4 separate regions of the Homo sapiens genome follow, and all the other regions are reported to be linked to region 3. Evidence: microRNA targets listed by miRTarBase, many of them from high-throughput screens and not tested one by one. Region 3 holds a microRNA gene; each other region holds the end of a gene's coding sequence.
What was found. The annotated mature microRNA hsa-miR-4699-3p reads AAUUUACUCUGCAAUCUUCUCC and lies in region 3 at 1,285-1,306, shown strand. An mRNA with a match to its seed (bases 2 to 7 or 8) in the 3' UTR can be bound and repressed. Matches are read on the target gene's strand: a 7mer-m8 pairs with bases 2 to 8, a 7mer-A1 pairs with bases 2 to 7 and ends in A, and an 8mer does both.

Region 1 (3,147 bases), not on the chromosome of region 3:
GACTGTTCTTACATTGATCCCATGACTCACAACCTGAACCGAATACTGATCGATAATGGATACCAACCAGAATGGATCCTTAAGCAAAAGGAAATAAGCGATACTATTGAGCAACTCAGAGAGGCAATTTTAGTGTCTAGGAAAAAACTTGGGAATCCAATGACACCAACTGAAAAGAAACAGTGGAACCATGTTTGTGAGCAGTTTCAAGAAAACATCAGAAAATTAAACAAGCGAATTAATGATTTTAATTTAATTGTTCCCATCCTGACCAGGCAAAAAGTCCATTTTGATGCTCAGAAAGAAATTGTCAGAGCCCAGAAAATATACGAGACCCTTATAAAAACAAAAGAAGTCACAGATAGAAACCCAAATAACCTTGATCAAGGAGAAGGAGAGAAAACACCTGAAATCAAGAAAGGTTTTTTAAACTGGATGAATCTGTGGAAATTTATTAAAATACGATCATTTTGATGTTTACTATCATAAATCATTCTTAGTTCCACTGACACTTTACATGGAAAATGAGATTTATTGCTATAATACAAGAATTTAAGAATTGTGCCATTGTACTTATCACAAAACTAATCACATAGCCAATGATGTGTGAGTGAGAAACCTATCAGGTTTGTCCTGAGGATATAGCAAGAAAAGAAAATAACTGAAACTCCTTTTTTTTTGAGACGGCGTCTCGCTCTGTCACCCAGGCTGGAGTGCAATGGCACAATCTAGGCTCACTGCAACCTCTGCTTCCCAGGTTCAAGTGATTATCCTGCCTCAGACTCCCGAATAGCTGGGATTATAGGCACACACCACCATACCCGGCTATTTTTGTATTTTGTTTTCTTTTTTTTTGAGACAGAGTCTCACTCTGTCGCCCAGGCTGGAGTGCAGTGGCGCGATCTCGGCTCACTGCAAGCTCCACCTCCTGGGTTCACGCCATTCTCCAGCCTCAGCCTCCTGAGTAGCTGGGATTACAGGCGCCTGCCACCACGCCCAGCTAATTTTTTGTATTTTTAGTAGAGACGGGGTTTCACTGTGTTAGCCAGGATGGTCTTGATCTCCTGACCTCGTGATCCGCCCGCCTCGGCCTCCCAAAGTGCTGGGATTACAGGTGTGAGCCACCGCGCCTGGCCTATTTTTGTATTTTTTGTAGAGACGGGGTTTCACCATGTTGGCCAGGATGGTCTCAAACCCCTGACCTCATGATCCACCTGCCTTGGCCTCCCAAAGTGCTGGGATTACGGGCTTGAGCCACCATGCCCGGCCTAATTTTTATATTTTTAATAGAGATGGGGTTTCACCATGTTGGCCAGGATGGTCTCGATCTCTTGACCTCATGATCCGCCCCCCTTGGCCTCCCAAAGTGCTGGGATTACAGGCGTGAGCCACCATGCCTGGCCAAAAATAACTGAAACTTCTAAAGAAAATAATTTAGTTCATTCTAGTGTTAAAATGTTGGTCATCCAGTGAAATGAGCTAGGATCAGGTTTCTGACTTAGGAATCATACATGAATTCCAAAAGTTTTGGTGCAGTTTTGAGCTGTAATAACTAACTTAAAAGCAGTGACTGTTGCCATTTTCAAACATAGGTACTTAAACAACAGGGAAACCGAAAAATATGTTATCAAAAGTCACAAAACTGAAGTGTTATGAAATTTAACCAATTAAACCTCCAGATGACTTTTTTTTTTAAACGAGCTTGCTGGATTTATATTCCTGAACTTATTAAGGCTCAAAACCGTTCCAAGACTTTTGGGACACCCTCCATATGGGTGGAAATATTAAGATCAGAAAATTAGCCTACTGGAATTACTGTACTTTTCTTTTTATGAGGGCCTTCTCTGTGGGTACTGAATGAAAAACACACCAAACATCCAGATTCTACTTTTTCCTGTCTAACTTGATGGTTTATTGGCTGCAGAAATCAGTGAAGCTAGTTGATTTAGCAATTCTAGAAAAAAACTCCAGTGTCCGCTTTTTTTTTTTTTTTTGAGATGGAGTTTCACTCTTGTTGCCCAGGCTGGAGTGCAATGGTGCAATCTTGGCTCACTGCAACCTCCGCCTCCTGGGTTCAAGTGATTCTCCTACCTCAGCCTCCCAAGTAGCTGGGATTAGAGGTGCCCGTCACCACGCCCAGCCAATTTTTATTTTTTTTAGTAGAGATGGGGTTTCACCATTTTGGCCAGGCTGGTCTCGAACTCCTGACTTCAGGTGATCCACCTGCCTTAACCTCCCAAAGTGCTGGGATTACAGGCGCGAGCCACTGTGCCTGGTCCAGTGGCCACTTTGTTTTTTTGAAATGGAGTTTTGCTGTTGTTGCCCAGGCTGGAGTGCAGTGTTTCCTTCTTTAATCCAGAGTGCTGTGTTACAGAAGTGGTTCAGAAGTGAGGGACTCACCACCTGCATTTTGGAAGAAAGTGTTATTTTGTAAAATGTGTGATAGTTAAAACAACAAACAAAACTACACCTTCAAAAAGAAATTTTTGGCCTTTAGCTTAGATGCTGCAGCATTAATTGGCATAATATGTGATTATAATTTATTGAATGATTTGTCATTTGGTTTCTACAATGATAGTATCACTGTAAATAAAATTGTGAACAGTATGGAATGTTGCTTAATAAGAGCTATAGTTCCAAAAACATTTTAGAAGGCAGTAATTTTGTGACTCTTGTTAAAAGTGGGAATTCGAGGCCGGGCGCGGTGGCTCATGCCTGTAATCCCAGCACTTGGGGAGGCCCAGGCGGGCGGATCATGAGGTCAGGAGATTGAGACCATCCTGGCTAACACGGTGAAACCCTGTCTCTACTAAAAATACAAAAAAATTTAGCTGAGCATGGCGGTGTGCGCCTGTAGTCCCAGCTGCTGGGGAGGCTGAGGCAGCAGAATGGCACGAACCCAGGAGGTGGAGCTTGCAGTGAGCCGAGATCGCGCCACTGCACTCCAGCCTGGGTGACAGAGCAAGACTCCGTCTTAAAAAAAAAAAAAAAGTGGGAATTAGACGTAAGAGGCTTAACTGCATTACAGCAACATAGATGAACAAAACCATTTTCCATATTGGTCAATGAGAAGGTAAGGTTACCAGAAAATGTCAGTAAATTTTTAATTTCAGCACAGTGCACTTTATGTTTGTAAATGTTGTCTAT
Region 2 (3,159 bases), not on the chromosome of region 3:
CAGTTTTGAGCAAATTACTGTTTCCATAATTTCTATTCTCACATAAAAAGTGAAGGTACCATAAGTCCCCTAACTTTGTACCTTTTCTAAGTCAGGATTTTCAGTCCACTCTGAGCAGGTGAAAGAAATAAGACCACCTACTCCACTACCTTAACTTTTATGTCACATGACTTATGAGGTAGGTTTACATCATGGGATTTACTCTATAACCCAAAAGTGTGAAATACTTCTATTACATATAACAAAAGAGTGATAAAGAAATAGTGGAACTGCCTTAACTTGGTTGTGTTACAAAAAGCTGGTAACTAACTACCCATTGTAAAATGAGCGATGGTGAAGAGTATGGGCTCAGAAGTAAAAATGCCATGACTGGAATCCAGCTCAGTGACTGAGTAGCTATGTGATCTTTGGGGGTTACCTAACATACCTACATTGTGTTGTCCTCACCTTTAAAATGGGCATAATAGGAGTACTAATCTCTTAAGGTTGCTGTGAGGTTTAATGAGATAATTCAGCACTTAGAAAGGCATCTGGCACCAAGGAAGCTTTCAATAAATATTAACTATTACTCAGAAATTGAATAGTTTTTTATTTGTTTGGGTCAATCTCAGTACTACTAGAACTCAAAATACTATATTCTAATTGTTCTAATTTGTACCATCTGCAAAAGACCCTTTAAGACTGCTTCAATGATTCTGAAAAGAATTAACAAAACCCTGTTACTAGGTGCCTGACCTTAGATATTACAACTGTTTCATTTACAAAACCTCCACTACAAAACACTAAGCTTGCAACAAAACAACAAAATGAAAGCCACATAATTTGAGTAACACAATAGTACATATTCTTCAGCTGATGAGAGTAATAGGGAAATGTATATACTTCCTACACAAATGCATCTAGGGAAAGCAGGCTATATTTATTCAAGAACTAGAAAAAGGTTACAATATAAATCTATCAAACAAAATTCATTTTTGTTATATTCAAGTAACTCATATATATTCAAATTTAGACCAAATCAAGACAACAATCCAATACACAGATTATTATATAGCTCAAGGAGCAAAAAACAACAGTCTTGTCAATACAGACTCTACATAAATACACAAATCTCAAGTTTTAATATAACATGAACAAATCACAAGTACATGTGTTAGTGTTCTTTCTCCAAATTTCTAGTAGTAAATCTTGTATATTTAGTAAAAGCATATAGAATGTATAAAACCTTCAACCACATGTAATGTAGACTAGGAAGTGTAAATCAAGTAGAATGTGAGGTTTTTATATGTAAAGATGTACATTTCAGAAAGAACCCAACATGAAGTAAATTAACAAACATATTGCAAAGGTGGTCACTCACAAAAATGCTTATCATTTGCAATTGTATACAGAGAACAAACTGCCCAGAAATTAATACTGGAATCTTACTGAGGGGTATTATAGTAACCAACCTTAAAGGACAAATAACTTATTTGGGGGGTTAAAATAGCAGAGATCAGTGTAAATTAAATAACACATGAATGAAAAAAATCTACAATATACAATAGCAAGAGGTGAGAAAACTGAATACTGTGAAAAAGATTTATTAGTCTGTACAAGTTGGTTTTGATGAACTACTGGTTACTTGTTAAGTAAATTGTCAAGATTTTCATTGTGACAGTATTTTCCCTCACACATCAGAATCTGGAAGCAATATGCCTTTTTCAAATTATCACTTAGTGTTTTTTTTCCCCACCCCTCAAAACACAGAAATAGGTTTTTGAATATCAACTAGCCATTATGGAAGCCGTAAGATACAGATATTCATCAACATTACACAAGCTACAGTTAAGGTACCTGGACAAACACTACCAACATTTATGAAAAAAGATGTTGGTTTTAAAAGTGTATGAGGAGTTACAATAAACACACTATTCATGTCCTCCTGAAACCAAAATGGGGGAAAACCTTATTGTCATTCTGCCAAACACCACATAACTAAAAATGCTGCACAGTCATGAATCCAATGTACATATCACAGGATTAAAACTCCAGTTAAGCAACTGAGCTAATCATTGAAGTAAATTAAAAATACCAAGCTTCTTTAACCTATCAATGCTGTTTTAGAAGCATCATCCGAACAAATAGAGATTTAGTTATAAATTGGCCTGGGCTACATTCTGTGATGAGAATTTTGCTTAGTACTAAAAAAGAATCTCAAACATCCCAGAAAAGCTGTGGAATCATGCTCTTTATTATTCCTGAAAGAAAATTTGCCACGTTTGATGATACCTCTATTCTTCCCCGTGGTGCTAGGAGTTCTAAATACCAAGTAATTCAGAAAATGATAGGAGTATTTAAGCAAAAAGAATAGCAAAAGCAGACTTTGTATCAACATATCCTAGATAGATGGATTTTTTTAAAAATTACATGATAAATGTAAATCATAAAATTGAATGTACTTATAAAGGTACACCTATTTTGTGCTACATAAAAAAACTGTAGACTGCAAACTGTGCATGCTTACCATAACATTTTACCCGGGGTCGATGAGTGGGATTTCTTGCAAATATTTACTGCTATGATATAAAACAATTATGTGCAAACTGCAAGGTCCCTAAAATAGCAGTTAAAGAGTTTATATACAGAAAGATGTCACTATCTGATCAAATATGCAAGAGATGGAATTTCCCAGAGTTTATAACACAGAGCAATAACCACCACAGGCTCCTCCTCCTTGGCCTTCTTCCCTGTGTGACAGTTTGACTCCTTTATTCTGGTTCTCACTTTCCCACAGTCCAGGGGTCTGAATGATCTTTTCAACAAGTTCTTCAAAGGCACATTGTACACCATCACAGGTTTTTGCACTTGCCTCTGAAATTCAAGGAAAAAGGTCATTCATAGTATATTCCTTTCTGGCCATATTCTCATGTTTTTCTGGGAAACTATCAGGGCATAAATATCAGCCTACAATATATTAAGATCCAAATCAGCAATTTTTCCCCAAAGGTCAATAACTAGTGAATTTCCAAATCTCAAAATTGAGCTAATTAAATTCTATCCATAAGAATACTAGTATATAATTTTATACCAAAAAAACACTGGTTTATAATCTTAAAACTGTGATAGAATTGTAACTTGTAAAGCCCTACTTAAATAGCGAGCGAAAGTTTTTTCCTT
Region 3 (3,159 bases):
TTATACACTGTGACCAAGTGGAATTTATTCCAGAGGTACAAGGCTGCTTCAATATCTGAAAATTAATCAAGGTAATCTACCATATTAATAGGCTACAGAAAAATTATATAATCATATTAATTGATGTAGAAAAAGTTGTTTAATAAATTCAACATTCATTCATAATGAAGAGCTATCAGAAAACTAGTAATTGAAAGGAACTTCCTCAACCTGACAAAAGATCACCTATGAAAAAACCTGCTGCTAATATCATACCTAATCATAAAAGCCTGATTGTTTCTCCTCTGTTGTTCAGGAACAAGGCAAGTATTTCCACTCTCACCCTCTATTCAACATATCTGTGGAAGTTCTAGCTCATTTAATAAAGAAGTATAGGGAAGCTGGGCGCGGTGGCTCACGCCTGTAATCCCAGCACTTTGGGAGGTCAAGGCGGGCAGATCATGAGGTCAGGAGTTCAAGGTCAGCCTGACCAATATGGTGAAACCCCATCTCTACTAAAAATACAAAAATTAGCCAGGCATGGTGGTGCGCACCTATAGTCCCAGCTACTCGGGAGGCTGAGGCAAGAGAATCGCTTGAACCCAGGAGGTGGAAGTTGCAGTGAGCCAAGATCGCAACACTGCACTCCAGCCTGGGCAACAGAGCAAGACTCCCTCTCAAAAAATAAATAAATAAATATAAACAGAAATATAGAGGAAGAAAAGGCATACACACCAGAAGGGTAGAAATAAAATTGTCTTTATTTGCAGATGGCATGATTATTTGCATAAATGATTACAGAATACACACACACACACACACACACACACACACACACACACAAATCCCATAACTAATAAGTGAGTTCAACCCAGTCTCAGGATACAAGATTAACATACAAATATTCATTGTGTCTCTATAAATCAGCAATGGCCACATATGGCCATAAAGGGCATCACGAAGGATCCTTGTAGAGATGAACTGGTTTGTATCTTGACTGTATCAATATTCTGATTGTGATAACATATTGTAGTTTTGCAGTTTTTACACCTGGGGAAAACTGGTTAAAGGGTATATCTCTGTATTACTTCTTACAACTGCATGTAAATCTGCTTATTTTCCTGATAATTACCACATTTTCAAACAAATTCATAAAACTACCTCATTAAAACAAACAACAACAAAAATCTCTAATCCCTTATCTCCTGACAGCTACAACATTCTCTCTTTAAGGCCTTGTCTACACTCAACAGCTTCAACAGCAATTGGAGAAGATTGCAGAGTAAGTTCCTGATTAAGAAATGGAATTTACTCTGCAATCTTCTCCAATTGCTGTCACCATCATTCCATAGCTACAGCTTTTCCTAACATCCCCAGTCATCTCTACTTGCCAAAGTCAATGGGCATTTTCAGTCTTCACTGTGCTTGACTCCTCAGCATTTGAAAGTGTTGGCCATTTGCTCGATCCTAATCATTCTCTTTCCTTCCAAGGTACAACGTGCTCCTGTCTAATGTACCACATGCTCCTGTTTCCCTGCAGTTATTCTTATGCTCATTCCTGTCCCAGGAACATTGCCTGAAATATATGCTACTTGTCTGTTAGATTTCAGCTGGTGTCACTTCCTCAGGGAAGCCCTCCTTGACCTCCCTGATTAGGTCAAATCCCTTTATCATGGTCTTTTAGCACATTGCATTTTCCCTTGGTGGTTTGTATAAAACTTGCAGATTCATATTAGTCTTTAGGCTCCTTTGATGTGTTCGTTTGCCCTTCTTTCCTCTAACTGTACTAAGGAAGGAGTCATCTGAGTTTGTGTCCACCGTCAATTCTCAGCTCCTTGCCTTAATGACACATATTCAGTATTTAATACATATTTGTTAAATAAATGCCTGAATGACAATATCAGAAGAAAACTTGATTTATACGTAAAGATTTTTTCTATCAATGAGTAAGAGTAATTTAAATTTTCTTTTTTTTACAACAGGACTGCATGAGCAACTTATATAAGTCAGGTTATATGTTTTATAGACAGAGATTTACTTTTATCAGTGGAATTGGACATATTTAAATACAGAACACCTGTATTTAAGTAGTTTATTTTCTGAGAGGGAAATTTATAGCACTAAATAGATAGATTAGAAAAGAGGAAAACACTCAAATCAAGAATATAAGCTCCTATCTCAAGAACCTAGGAAAAAAGGAACAAAATATGCCCAAAACCAGGAAAGAATAATAAAGTTACCAAATAATAAAGGAATAAGTCAGGATATATGTTTTATAGACAGAGATTTACTTTTATCAATGGAATTGGACATATTTAAATACAAAACACCTGGCCAGCTCAGTCAGTGCAGTATGAGATGTTTAAAGTATGCAATTCTTGAAGGAAAATTGGATTGACCAGTTAAAATATGGAAACCAATTCTGAATAATTTAGTCTTTACTTTTGAGAGGAAAAAATTGAATGGTACTTCTTTAGAAATCTACTTCATTAATAGAGCAGTGATTCCAATAGATCTAACCCTAACCGTGTATGAACAAGAACAGATATTTGGTAGGATGGTTTTGCCAAAGAGAAGGGATAAAACACAAGCAATCTTTTCACATAGGAATGCAATGTACAAACAAATTTAGCTAACAGCCTAGTGTGTATGCGCATTCACATGTGTGTGATGGCAAATGGTGATTATACAGAGATATGCTCCCTTGCCTCTCTCTTCTTTCTAGTATTTCTTCCCTTTACCAGACTGTCATCTGCAGAATCAAAATCCAACACATTTCTCTAAGGCAAATAAATCTTTCCGTGTCCTGCCTTTCTCCTTATCTTTGCTGTCTACCAATGTGCAAAAGTGTGTGTTGTACACATATTTCAATTTCATGATACAGTAAGCCCAGGCTTCCACAATGACAGTGGTGTGGTTAAGCAAGAAATGAGATTACTGTTCCTTGGCTAGAGTATTACGTAGGTCTAAAATGGAATGTTAGTAGTTACTGTTTCTCCTTAAATCCGGCTTTAGAGTAAGCCATAAACTGGTTGGTATAATTGGTCTTGATATAGCAGTTGTCATTTTTATGTAATAACAGTCTTCTTTTCCAGTCAAGGGATATAAGTTTGCTCTCATTTTACATTTGTTTGTATTTCACATATGGTATACATCACAGCAACAAGCCTTTTCAATAAA
Region 4 (3,159 bases), not on the chromosome of region 3:
TCCGGAAGTGGGCGGAGGCCTCGGCCGCGAAGTCTCTTGGGAGCTGTAGTTTACAGCTCCGCGAGGCTCTCTAGAGCTTTTGTGTGTCTGTGTGTTTTTAAGATGCGAGGTTCGGCCGGGTGCGGTGGCTCACTCCTGTAATCTTAGCACTTTGGGAGGCCGAGGCGGGTAGATCGCCTGAGGTCAGCAGTTCGAGACCAGCCTGGCCAGCATGGTGAAACCCCATCTCTGCGCCTGTAATTCCAGCTAGTAGGGAGGCTGAGGCAGGAGAATCACTTGAACCCGGGAGGCGGAGGTTGCAGTGAGCCAAGATCGTGCCATTGCACTCCAGCCTGGGCAACAAGAGCGAAAATCAGTCTCAAAAAAAAAAAAAAAAAGCCAGCCGGGCGCAGTGGCTCACGCCTGTAATCCCAGCACTTTGGGAGGCCGACGCGGGTGGATCACGAGGTCAGGAGATCGAGACCGTCCTGGCTAACACGGTGAAACCACGTCTCTACTAAAAATACAAAAAATTAGCCGGGCGTGGTGGCGGACGCCTGTAGTCCCAGCTACTCCGGAGGCCGAAGCAGGACAACGGCGTGAACCGTGAGTGAGGCGGATCTTGCAGTGAGCTGAGATCGCGCCACTGCACTCCAGCCTGGCGGACAGAGGGAGACTCTGTCTCAAAAAAAAAAAGGCGGGGCACGGTGGCTCACGCCTGTAATCCCAGCAATCCCAGCACTTTGGGAAGCCGAGGCGGGCGGATCACGAGGTCAGGAGTTTGAGACCAGCCTGGCCAACATGGTGAAACCCCATCTCTACTAAAATACAAAAATTAGCCGGGCGTGGTGGCGGGCGCCTGTCATCCCAGCTACTCAAGAGGCTGAGGCAGGAGAATCGCTTAAAACCAGAAGGCGGAGGTGTCAGTCAGCCGAGATTAAGCCACTACAGTCCAGTCTGGGCAACAAGAGCTAAACTCCCTCTCAAAAGAAAAAAAAAAAAAAGACACAGGGGTCTTGCTATGTTTCCCAAGCTGGTCTCGAACTTCTGGCCTCAAGCAATCCTCCAGACTTGGCTTCCCAAAGTTCTGGGAGCCATCGTGCCGGCATCTTCTTGTGTTTATTACGTTTTTAAAGCAGCCCTAGAAGATAAGAACCATAACACTCCCTAGCTCCTCCTCGACACCGTCTTGCTCAACCACCTCCCGTAACTCCCTAGTATTCAATCCCACCTCCTTGGCCCCATTTATGGGCACCTGCGGTCTTCATTGCCCACCTGTGTCCTCACCTCTAACCAATTCCTTCTATGTCTGGGCTCTCCCAGACCTTGCCATTTCCTCCAAGACTTCCCTGACTGCATTCTTCAAAAAGGCAAGTCAGGTACCTTCCCTGAAGTCCTACAGCCCTCACAATCCCCCTCCCAGCCCTGACACCTCTGTGTCCAAACTGCCTTCCTGACTTCCAGGGCAAAGAATGGGCACCCAGCACACAGCAATTGCACAGTGAAGTTGCTAAGTGGAAGCTACTAAGTATTATTACTCCAACAGCAACAGAGCAGAGGAGAAACCAGCACTGCATTTTATAGGCGACAAATGCACCTCACAGTGTTAAATTCTTGCTCAAAATCAAACATCCCCAAGGGACAAGTGGAAGATTCAAACTCCTTATGGGCTGGAGTTCAAGACCAGCCTGGTCAACATGGTGAAACTCCCCTCTACTAAAAATACATAAATTAGCTGGGCGTGGTGGCATGCACCTGTAATCCCAGCTACTTGGGAGGCTGAGGCACCAGAATTGCTTGAACCCAGGAGGCAGAGGTTGCAGTAAGCAGGGATCCGACAACTGCACTCCAGCCTGGGTGACAGAGCGAGACCCTGTTTCAAAAACAAACACCCCCCCGCACACACACACAGTTTTCCACCAGTCTTCCCAGACCTATAAAATTTATGACACAGGCTGGGCATGACGGCTCACACCTGTAATCCCAGCACTTTGGGAGGCCGAGGCAGGCAGATCACCTGAGGTCAGGAGTTCGAGACCAGCCTGGCCAACATGGTTGAAACCCCGTCTCTACTAAAAATACAAAAATTAGCCGGGTGTGGTGGTGGGCGCCTATAATCCCAGCTATTCGGGAGGCTGAGGCAGGAGATTGCTTGAACCCAGGAGAGGGAGTTTGCAGTGAGCCGAGATCGTGCCACTGCACTCCAGCCTGGGGGACAGAGCGCAGTGGTTCATGCCTGTAATCCCAGCACTTTGGGAGGCAGAGGAGGGCGGATCACCTGAGGTCGGGAGCTCGAGACCAGCCTGACCAACATGGAGAAACCCCATCTCTACTAAAAATACAAAATTAGCCGGGCGTGGTGGCGCATGCCTGTAATCCCAGCTACTCGGGAGGGTGAGGCAGGAGAATCGCTTGAACCCGCAAGGCGGAGGTTTTAATGAGCCGAGATCCCCCCATTGCACTCCAACCTGGGCAACAAAAGGGAAACTGTCTCAAAAAAAAAAAAGAGTTATGACACATATAAGGCAAGTGGAACTTTGAACATTTATTACACGTTTAATAATATTTCAAAATTATTGATAATTCTTTTGGATGTGATAAGCTTTGTAATTGTCTTTTAATGAGCTCTCATCTTGGAGAGATACATTCTGAAATATTTACAGAAGAAATAATCCGATGCCTGAGATCAGCTTCAAAAGAACTCAGGATGGGGCAGGGACGGGTTGTAGGTAGTCGGTAGTCAGGGTACTGGGTACACGGATGTTCTTTGTACTGTTCTTTGGTCTGTTGCGCAGGTTCGAAATGCTTCCTAATTAAAAAGCCTAAAAAGGGACTTGGCAAGCTCCCATCCAGACTTCAACCCCACAATATGGAGAGCACTCAGGTCCGAGGCGTTCCTGCTCCCCAGCTCCCTGCAAAAATAGCGCCAGGCAAGGTCCGAGGCGAGGGCGATGCTTCCATGAGGGTCCCGCCGACTGCGTCGCGATCCTCAATGGCTCAGCGACTTGCGGCCCTTGAGCATTCGGCGAAGGATGACCTGCACGCCGGCCGGCGTGCTCAGGCGCCGGACCCAGCCGTGCTTGTTCTTGCGTTTGATGTTGCTCGGCTGATACTCATTCCCGCGAGCCTTGCCCCGGGCCTGCTGCGGGGTGGGGAGGCCCCAGGCGTCTGGGAACCCCA

Region 1: miRTarBase lists DNAJC28 as a target of hsa-miR-4699-3p. The part of its 3' UTR that is shown has no 7-base or 8-base seed match.
Region 2: the mRNA of RAB18 is a reported target of hsa-miR-4699-3p. Seed matches in the 3' UTR shown: 8mer at 2,550-2,557 and 7mer-m8 at 197-203.
Region 4: the mRNA of MRPL34 is a reported target of hsa-miR-4699-3p. Seed matches in the 3' UTR shown: 7mer-A1 at 2,634-2,640.

Annotation. Positions count from the first base shown.
Region 1 is chr21:33,485,554-33,488,700 of GRCh38, reverse strand. DNAJC28 (DnaJ heat shock protein family (Hsp40) member C28) reads left to right here. Exons shown (of 2, transcript NM_001040192.3): 2 at 1-646. The coding sequence ends at 474. Among named protein-coding and RNA genes, the nearest start is that of DNAJC28, 4.6 kb to the left of the region's middle.
Region 2 is chr10:27,537,570-27,540,728 of GRCh38, reverse strand. RAB18 (RAB18, member RAS oncogene family) reads right to left here. Exons shown (of 7, transcript NM_021252.5): 7 at 1-2,853. The coding sequence ends at 2,678. Among named protein-coding and RNA genes, the nearest start is that of LINC02680, 27 kb to the left of the region's middle.
Region 3 is chr12:81,157,149-81,160,307 of GRCh38, forward strand. It overlaps MIR4699 (microRNA 4699), which reads left to right and starts at 1,240; the gene lies at 1,240-1,313. All of the region lies in intron 7 of ACSS3 (acyl-CoA synthetase short chain family member 3), which reads left to right.
Region 4 is chr19:17,306,189-17,309,347 of GRCh38, reverse strand. It overlaps MRPL34 (mitochondrial ribosomal protein L34), which reads right to left. Exons shown (of 2, transcript NM_023937.4): 2 at 2,505-3,159. The coding sequence ends at 2,969. Among named protein-coding and RNA genes, the nearest start is that of DDA1, 1.8 kb to the left of the region's middle. RefSeq lists enhancers at 10-199, 1-482.